Linked DNA regions of Homo sapiens: all the other regions are reported to be linked to region 1. Evidence: microRNA targets listed by miRTarBase, many of them from high-throughput screens and not tested one by one. Region 1 holds a microRNA gene; each other region holds the end of a gene's coding sequence.

Evidence for each region. The annotated mature microRNA hsa-miR-3942-5p reads AAGCAAUACUGUUACCUGAAAU and lies in region 1 at 921-942, shown strand. An mRNA with a match to its seed (bases 2 to 7 or 8) in the 3' UTR can be bound and repressed. Matches are read on the target gene's strand: a 7mer-m8 pairs with bases 2 to 8, a 7mer-A1 pairs with bases 2 to 7 and ends in A, and an 8mer does both.
Region 2: miRTarBase lists KCNIP3 as a target of hsa-miR-3942-5p. Seed matches in the 3' UTR shown: 7mer-A1 at 546-552.
Region 3: miRTarBase lists RBBP4 as a target of hsa-miR-3942-5p. The part of its 3' UTR that is shown has no 7-base or 8-base seed match.

What each region holds. Positions count from the first base shown.
Region 1 is chr15:35,370,037-35,373,262 of GRCh38, reverse strand. It overlaps MIR3942 (microRNA 3942), which reads left to right and starts at 899; the gene lies at 899-1,007. DPH6 (diphthamine biosynthesis 6) reads left to right here. Exons shown (of 9, transcript NM_080650.4): 9 at 1,060-2,383. The coding sequence ends at 1,113.
Region 2 is chr2:95,383,619-95,386,618 of GRCh38, forward strand. It overlaps KCNIP3 (potassium voltage-gated channel interacting protein 3), which reads left to right. Exons shown (of 9, transcript NM_013434.5): 9 at 384-2,459. The coding sequence ends at 431. Among named protein-coding and RNA genes, the nearest start is that of FAHD2A, 18 kb to the right of the region's middle. RefSeq lists an enhancer at 1,749-2,649 and a silencer at 2,083-2,377.
Region 3 is chr1:32,679,452-32,682,451 of GRCh38, reverse strand. It overlaps RBBP4 (RB binding protein 4, chromatin remodeling factor), which reads right to left. Exons shown (of 12, transcript NM_005610.3): 12 at 1-2,812. The coding sequence ends at 2,747. It overlaps SYNC (syncoilin, intermediate filament protein), which reads left to right. Exons shown (of 5, transcript NM_030786.3): 5 at 592-2,546. The coding sequence ends at 602. Among named protein-coding and RNA genes, the nearest start is that of SYNC, 22 kb to the left of the region's middle.

The sequences.
Region 1 (3,226 bases):
CAATGGGAGGACAATATAAAATCAAATATTAAATCATCTAGCAGGATCACATTTAAGTTACTGTACATAAGCATTAAGGGAAGGGTTTGAGGATAAATTGGATTGTCATTATTCAAAGCTTAAGAGAGGAAAAGGAGAAATAAAACCTTTACAAAAATATCCAGGAAAAGAGAAGTAAAAATGGAAGATGGAAAGTGAAGCAAAATTACAATAAAGAGTTTTATTTTAAATACACTGTCAAGATACAGTAAAATTTTAATTTAAAGATATCTTGTGGAATAAAGTTCTGGATTAGATTCCTTGATTGAGAGGTCTCATCCTTCAGATGTTGCTTTATATTAGTTACCATAAAAATGATAGCTGAAATTATGTGAAGAAATGAGTGTAGTGACAGAAAAGGATTAGAAAATGTCTTCTGTATATTTAGTGTTCTTTCCCCCAAGTCTTGAGGCACACCCACAGTTACATATTTTACATCATAGGAAATCTGAAGGAGTAAGAGGATTAACAAGAATTCGGCAAAAGTAGGAAAAGAGTGGTAATGCCAAAAATCTCAAGATGAGAGGGTTTCTACAGGTGAGGATAATTATAGGTGCCAGTTCTCCAGAAGAATGACAATGGGCAGGATTAAAAATAGGTTGTGGAATTGGGCTGGATGATGACTATTGGTGACCTTTTATCAAAAAGCTGGTAACCCCCACAAGAATTAAGTTACACTATCCAAATGTTTTTCAGATTTACTTGAACCCCTAACTTGTAGTTTTCTGCTACTTTTGCTACCATGTACGCACACACAAAGTCAAAAGCACTGAATTCATGTGTAGGCATTCCAGCCATTCTATGTTCAGCTCTACCCGAATAGCTCACTGTTCACCTCGTTGTTTTGGTATTTGATTGGTCTTCAGTATGACACCTCAAAGAAGCAATACTGTTACCTGAAATAGGCTGCGAAGATAACAGTATTTCAGATAACAGTATTACATCTTTGAAGTGTCATATTCACTGACACTGAATAAATATGGTGCATTTTCCTTCCCTTTCCTTCCCTTTTTTTTTTAGGTGTCCTCAGTGCCTGACAACTACAGAACATCTAATTATATATATAATTTTTGAAAAGTGTTTTGGAACATTGTTCATTAAACCACCATTTCTATACAAAAAAATTGCATAGTATTTTCTCAGTTACTATGACTAGTTTATTTTTTTCTCATGACTCTTATTTTTTTAGAGAAACATACTTTCACTAGAAGAGGTTAGTGGAACCATTTATTAATTGGGAAAATGTCGACGGCATGTTCATTAATAGTGCCAACTTTCTTGGAATTCACTCTTTCTCTTTCGTTAACACATCTTCCCTATGACCTTTTTTTTCTTTTATTTCATCTATAAACCCCATTTCTGTAGCATTTCTTTTTTTATCACACTAGTTTCTTTTCCTCCTTCTCTCTTTCTTGCTCCAATCCCTACCAATAATGTCATGATGCAGAGGCATTTGAAAATGAAGATGAAAAGATGGTCACTTTATTTAGCCAGTCAAGCTTATTCTACTGGGTGTCGCCAAAGCGATTTATCATTTTTATTTTAAATATATTCATGGTTGAAGTGTTTCAACGTTATTGGACAATTAGGAAGAATGTCCTTAACTCTTACAAGTTATTTTATAACTGATTTTTAAAATGCTGTTTTTCAGTATTAACTATGTTGACCTTAGAAAACTTTTACAAAAAATAGACTTTATGTTTTAGAACAGTTTTAGGTTCACAGCAAAAATGGAGCAGAAAATGCAGAGATTTCCCATATACCCTCTACCTCCACACATTCACAGCCTCCCCTACCGTCAATGTCTTATAATAGAGTGGTACATTTGTTACAACTGATGAACCTACATTGACACATTATTATCACCCAAAGTCCATAGTTTACGTGAGGGTTCACTCTTGGTGTTGTACATAATATGGGTTTTGACAAATGTGTAATGACATTTGTCAACCGTTATAGTATTATACAGAATAATTTCACTGCCTTAAAAAATCCTCTGTGTTTTACTTATTCATCCCTCCCTCTCCTTTAACCCTTAGCAACTGATCTTTTCACTGTGTACATAGTTTTGCTTTTACCAGAATGTAATGTAGTTGAAATCATACAGTATATAGCTTTTCATGCAGTATATAGCTTTTCAGATTGGCTTCTTTCATGTATTAATATGCATTTAGGTTTCTCTGTATCTTGTCATGTATATGTAGCTCATTTTTTTTTTAGTGTAGAATAAAATTTTATTGTCTGGTTCTACCACATTTCATTTGTCCATGCACCTATTGAAGAACATCTCAGTTGCTTCCATGTTTTGGCGATTATGAATAAAGCGACTATAAACATCCATGAACAGGTTTTTGTGTGAAGATAAGTTTTTTTCAGGTGTATAAATACCAAGGAGCACAATTACTGGATCATATGGTAAGATTATGTTTAGCTTTGTAAAAAAAACTGCCACACTGTTTTCCAAAGTAGTTGTACTATTTTGTATTCCCACCAACAATGAATGAGAGTTTCTGTTGTTCCACCTCCTGACCAGCATTGAGCATTGTAGGAATTTTGGACTTTTGCCATTCTGGTAGGTCTGAAGTGTTCTCTCATTGTTGTTTTAGTTTGCAACTACCTAAAGATATGTGATGTTGAACATCTTTTCATGTTTGTTTGCCATCTGTGTATCTCCTTTGGTGAGATGTCTCTTCAGATCTTTTGACTATTTTTAATTGGGGTTTTTGTCTTATTATTGAGTTTTAAGAGTTCTTTGCATATTTTGGATAACAGTTCTTTATCAAATATGTATTTGCAAATATGTTCTACCATTCTATGTTTTGTCTTTTCATTCTCTTAACAGTGTCTTTTACAAAGCACAAGTTTTTAATTTTAAGGAACTCCAGCTTATCAATTCTTTTTTTCTAGTATTATGCTTTTAATGTTATATCTATCTGTAAAATCATTGCAAAATCCAAGGTCATCTGGATTATCTTGTCGAAGCTTGATAGCTTTGTGCTTTATGTTTATGTTTGTGATACATTCTGAATTCATTTTTGTAAAGGACATAACATCTATATATGGATTCGTTTTTTAAAAATGTAGTTATTCAGTTGTTCCAGCACCATTTCTTGAAAAGACTATCTTTTCTCCATCATATTGCCTTGTTCTTTTGTATATTTGTGTGGTCTATTTCTGGGCTCCCCAG
Region 2 (3,000 bases), not on the chromosome of region 1:
CAGAGCTTCCGCAGTGTTGCTGCTGGCCCTTCCAGAGAGCACCTCAGGGGGCAGGATGCTGGGCCTCCAGCGCCTCTATTGCCCCACTCCCAGAGCAGTCCTGGTTAGCGCCCACCTCCTCTGGAGGCCAGCCGGGATCGCCTTCATCAGCTCATCCCAGATGGGCTTGCAGTCAGGAGTGGGGTTGAAGACAGGCTGTGCCTCACCAGCTGGGGACCTCGGACCAGCTACTTCACCTCCCTGTCCCCCAGCTCCCTGCACCCAATAAGACAGACAGACAGGCAGTCGCTGCAGGCTCCGAGTCCCTGGCGGGAATCTGCTCAAGGGGGTCGGATTTGGAGCCCACCCAGCACCTGAAGGCCTCCCTTCCTCTCTCCATGCAGGATGAGAACATCATGAGCTCCATGCAGCTGTTTGAGAATGTCATCTAGGACACGTCCAAAGGAGTGCATGGCCACAGCCACCTCCACCCCCAAGAAACCTCCATCCTGCCAGGAGCAGCCTCCAAGAAACTTTTAAAAAATAGATTTGCAAAAAGTGAACAGATTGCTACACACACACACACACACACACACACACACACACACAGCCATTCATCTGGGCTGGCAGAGGGGACAGAGTTCAGGGAGGGGCTGAGTCTGGCTAGGGGCCGAGTCCAGGAGCCCCAGCCAGCCCTTCCCAGGCCAGCGAGGCGAGGCTGCCTCTGGGTGAGTGGCTGACAGAGCAGGTCTGCAGGCCACCAGCTGCTGGATGTCACCAAGAAGGGGCTCGAGTGCCCCTGCAGGGGAGGGTCCAATCTCCGGTGTGAGCCCACCTCGTCCCGTTCTCCATTCTGCTTTCTTGCCACACAGTGGGCCGGCCCCAGGCTCCCCTGGTCTCCTCCCCGTAGCCACTCTCTGCCCACTACCTATGCTTCTAGAAAGCCCCTCACCTCAGGACCCCAGAGGGACCAGCTGGGGGGCAGGGGGGAGAGGGGGTAATGGAGGCCAAGCCTGCAGCTTTCTGGAAATTCTTCCCTGGGGGTCCCAGGATCCCCTGCTACTCCACTGACCTGGAAGAGCTGGGTACCAGGCCACCCACTGTGGGGCAAGCCTGAGTGGTGAGGGGCCACTGGGCCCCATTCTCCCTCCATGGCAGGAAGGCGGGGGATTTCAAGTTTAGGGATTGGGTCGTGGTGGAGAATCTGAGGGCACTCTCTGCCAGCTCCACAGGGTGGGATGAGCCTCTCCTTGCCCCAGTCCTGGTTCAGTGGGAATGCAGTGGGTGGGGCTGTACACACCCTCCAGCACAGACTGTTCCCTCCAAGGTCCTCTTAGGTCCCGGGAGGAACGTGGTTCAGAGACTGGCAGCCAGGGAGCCCGGGGCAGAGCTCAGAGGAGTCTGGGAAGGGGCGTGTCCCTCCTCTTCCTGTAGTGCCCCTCCCATGGCCCAGCAGCTTGGCTGAGCCCCCTCTCCTGAAGCAGTGTCGCCGTCCCTCTGCCTTGCACAAAAAGCACAAGCATTCCTTAGCAGCTCAGGCGCAGCCCTAGTGGGAGCCCAGCACACTGCTTCTCGGAGGCCAGGCCCTCCTGCTGGCTGAGGCTTGGGCCCAGTAGCCCCAATATGGTGGCCCTGGGGAAGAGGCCTTGGGGGTCTGCTCTGTGCCTGGGATCAGTGGGGCCCCAAAGCCCAGCCCGGCTGACCAACATTCAAAAGCACAAACCCTGGGGACTCTGCTTGGCTGTCCCCTCCATCTGGGGATGGAGAATGCCAGCCCAAAGCTGGAGCCAATGGTGAGGGCTGAGAGGGCTGTGGCTGGGTGGTCAGCAGAAACCCCCAGGAGGAGAGAGATGCTGCTCCCGCCTGATTGGGGCCTCACCCAGAAGGAACCCGGTCCCAGGCCGCATGGCCCCTCCAGGAACATTCCCACATAATACATTCCATCACAGCCAGCCCAGCTCCACTCAGGGCTGGCCCGGGGAGTCCCCGTGTGCCCCAAGAGGCTAGCCCCAGGGTGAGCAGGGCCCTCAGAGGAAAGGCAGTATGGCGGAGGCCATGGGGGCCCCTCGGCATTCACACACAGCCTGGCCTCCCCTGCGGAGCTGCATGGACGCCTGGCTCCAGGCTCCAGGCTGACTGGGGGCCTCTGCCTCCAGGAGGGCATCAGCTTTCCCTGGCTCAGGGATCTTCTCCCTCCCCTCACCCGCTGCCCAGCCCTCCCAGCTGGTGTCACTCTGCCTCTAAGGCCAAGGCCTCAGGAGAGCATCACCACCACACCCCTGCCGGCCTTGGCCTTGGGGCCAGACTGGCTGCACAGCCCAACCAGGAGGGGTCTGCCTCCCACGCTGGGACACAGACCGGCCGCATGTCTGCATGGCAGAAGCGTCTCCCTTGGCCACGGCCTGGGAGGGTGGTTCCTGTTCTCAGCATCCACTAATATTCAGTCCTGTATATTTTAATAAAATAAACTTGACAAAGGAGAGGGATTCCTGTTGGCTTTATCCTAGCTCTGAACTTCAGCTCAGCTCTTCCCACCCCTGCTGCCATTAGCCGTGGATCCTGCCTGGTGCTGTGCTGGTAAATGTTTGACAGCTGGCTCTGGGGGCAGAGAATGCCGCTCAAATTCTCAGGCTCACAGTGTGACCTCACTGAGGCCGAGTGAGGCCGAGATGCACACAGTGGGCCTTTGTGGCCTTCATGGGAAGCGCCAGCCCTGCAGCCTCCGCACAGACCCCACAGGGCAGGAGGACTTCTTCCTGAGGCACCATGTGTATTTCACCCCCAGATAATTTTTCTTTCCCAGTTCCAGGAAGTCATTCTGGGTGTCCCCTTGGCTGGAGAGTGAGGGTCACGGGGCAGAAGAAAGCAATATTTGCCTGAACACATCTCCTGGTGTTTATTTTCAGAAGTATAAGCCCTGTGAGGACAATGCCAGGGAAGGGACAAGAATGAAAGCCTGGGAGGAGGGAGGAGGAGGGTTCCCCAACTCACCAGTTCAGATTGAAGAAATCCAAACACGTT
Region 3 (3,000 bases), not on the chromosome of region 1:
TTTATTTTTTTAAATTTCTTTTTAGTAGAGATGGGGGGTCGGGTCTTGCTATTTTGCCCAGGCTGGAGTAGTGGCACGATCTTGGCTCACTGCAACTCTGCCTCCTGGGTTCAAACAATACTCCTGCCTCAGCCTGCTAAGTAGCTGGGATTACAGGCATAAGCCATCACACCCAGCCTTGAGGATTTTCTTATACTGTGTTTGAATCCACATGACTGATAATATGCTTAATGTTTGAGAAATTATAACCTTGCAATTGAGGTTAATGATCTACTAACTACCTTTGTGTTGATCAGATTGTGTACAATCTGGAAAAGACAACGACTAATCCAAAGAAATGAAACTACAGAATTTCAGGCATTGTAATTATACCTGTAAGAAGTTAACCTAGCAGAGAAAACGTTTAACTATCCCTCCCATCACCATCACCATTCATTCTATTTGACAAACAGGAGGCATCCAAATATTTGCTAGGGGAAAGTCATCCCTGATCATCCATAAATCACACTGTAACAATCTCTTCTCAACAAAGCCTGCAGTAACTAAACCTCAGAAGTTCACTGTTATAAACTTTTTCTTTCAACTTTACAGGGGCTGTTTAGAAATATATGGCCAAATCTGTAACCCGGAAACAGCAAAAAACTTCTTAGCAAAGGATCACTAAGTACCCTTTGGATGTACTCTTCCAACCAGACAAGAGTGCCAGAAACTTGGCAAGCAATTCATCCTGTGGAAGTTGCAAATACTGGCTGACCTGCTTAAAAAGATTCTAGAGTTGGCCGGAGGCAGAACATGTCAACTCTTTGCTGGATTCTATTTCATCTGCTGTTGATACTGATCTCAATGCACCAAGGAAAGGAAAGATGAGCCTCCTGTCTTCCAGCAACAACCCTCACATATGCACTGAGTGAAGGATGAATGTATGGACACATCTGGGAGTATTTTAAAGAATGTATCTTGCCTTGTGTTGACCCAAACCAAAAACATTTTTGAGGGGCACATGTGGGGTCAAAAAGATAGCCAATTTCCATTACATGGGTTTACAATTTCCATTCTTTTGTGCCACGAGTGTTAGAATTTAAATGAATACTTTTACAAAGTCTACTTTTTGTTCAAGGATATGCTGACCCATATAGTTTACTCTTAAAATTGTGTCAAGGTATTTCTCACTATACTCTAAAACAACTAGACTTGAAAAGAAACCATTTGAGATTTGAATCTAATGGTTAACGCTATTCAGATTTTCCCAAAGATCTTACCTCATGAAAGTAGTTCTGGGTCAGAATGATCTACTCAGTTAAAAAACAACAACAACAAAAAACTAAGCGATTGGGAAAAAACAGGAATTTTATCTGGTTATTGCATCTGGTGATAGAGGCCTTCAAAGCCTATTATTTCTAACCTAAGTAAAGGCCCCAGTGAAAAACATACTGGGGAAATAAAACCTCTGAGAAAAGGTTCAAGCACCTTTTCCAAATTTAAATCTTGCCTTAAATTCTCTCTACCACACTGCCTTTGACACTCTTGGAAGTCCATGTAGTTCTCTACAGATAGACTTCAAAGAAACGTTACCTTATCAAAGACTAATCTGTGCCACCTCTGATTCAGTGTTTTATGTCTTTCACTTTCCCTGGGAAGGAGTAAAGTTCTTTTCTACAGCTCTGGGACTATTACATTTAATTCTGCTCTTGATAGTCAAAGACCATGGACAACAACTGTCATCTGAAGGACTCTTCTAGAAGCCAGAGACTGGTGTTTGATGGATGTTTTATACTAAATAAAACCCATCAGCATGGGGTTATGTAGAAAAGCAATTTATTCCATTTTAAGCACTTACACAGTTAGTCATGGAGAGTAACAGGCCTGCTGGTGAAACAGGTCACCCAAAATGGAGATGGCATCAAACTAGTGGTCAAGGACTAACTCCTAAAAAAAAAAAGCAACTCTTATCAAGGATTAATTTAATTTTTAAAACAAATACAAGTTATTGATTCACTCTTCTCAACTTGACAGTCTACCTGTGGTATAACTGTCAGGTAAAAACATACATCTTTACAACTTGGTGGTCCCAAGTTAAAAAAAAAAAAAAAAAAACCAACAACAAAAAAAAAAACACCATTTCACAGACAGGAAATAAACAACATGAAAACAGCTCAAGAAATACACTAACGAGCAAAAATATATGAATATATGGGGAAAGAGGAACGTGTTGTTTTGACTTAACTGAAGAAACCAAGAGGAAACTGGTCTACGTATGAAAATGTGCATCCTGGAAAGTCAGGTGTCAAGATTTTCGAGTAGGAATCTATATGACTTGAATCTCCCCCTATTTCCTGAATAAAAGTGACATCTTTCAGTATTTATACTTCATGGCTCAGACACCTACCTCATTTGGCTCTATTCCTTACTCACTCTAGCCTTTACTTAAATGAGTCTGAAAAACTTGGGGATATAGCATAAGAAGAAAAATAATCACACATAATATTCCCCTTTCTGTAGCTACTTTAGACCTGGGTTACTAGAAAATTCCTGAAGAAAATTTCAACGTTAAGTCTGTGGCTTTGTTGAATCAAGCCCCCCTATTAATATTTAGAAAACACCCACGGTTTGGGCTAATAGCATTATCGGTGGTACCTATTATATAGAGGGATAGCTGAATAAAGTCTGTCTCAAAACCAGTGTTAAATCACTCTCAGGGTTGAGAAGAAAAAAGGGGAGTCTAAAATCACAACAAGTAAAGACATATCTAGGACCCTTGTCCTTCTGGATCCACGCTTCCTTCAGGGTCTTCATCATTATAAATGTTCTCTGCCTGCCCAAAAACAAGAAAAAGAATTTAAACATGAAGACTTCTTCTAAAACTCAAGGTTTCAACAACAGATTAGGCCAGGAAGCCAGAGAGTAAATACTTTATAGCTTTTGGGCCACACAATCTGTGTTACAACTATTCAACTCTTGGATGAAAGTATCCGGAGACAACCTATAATGGGTAATGAAATA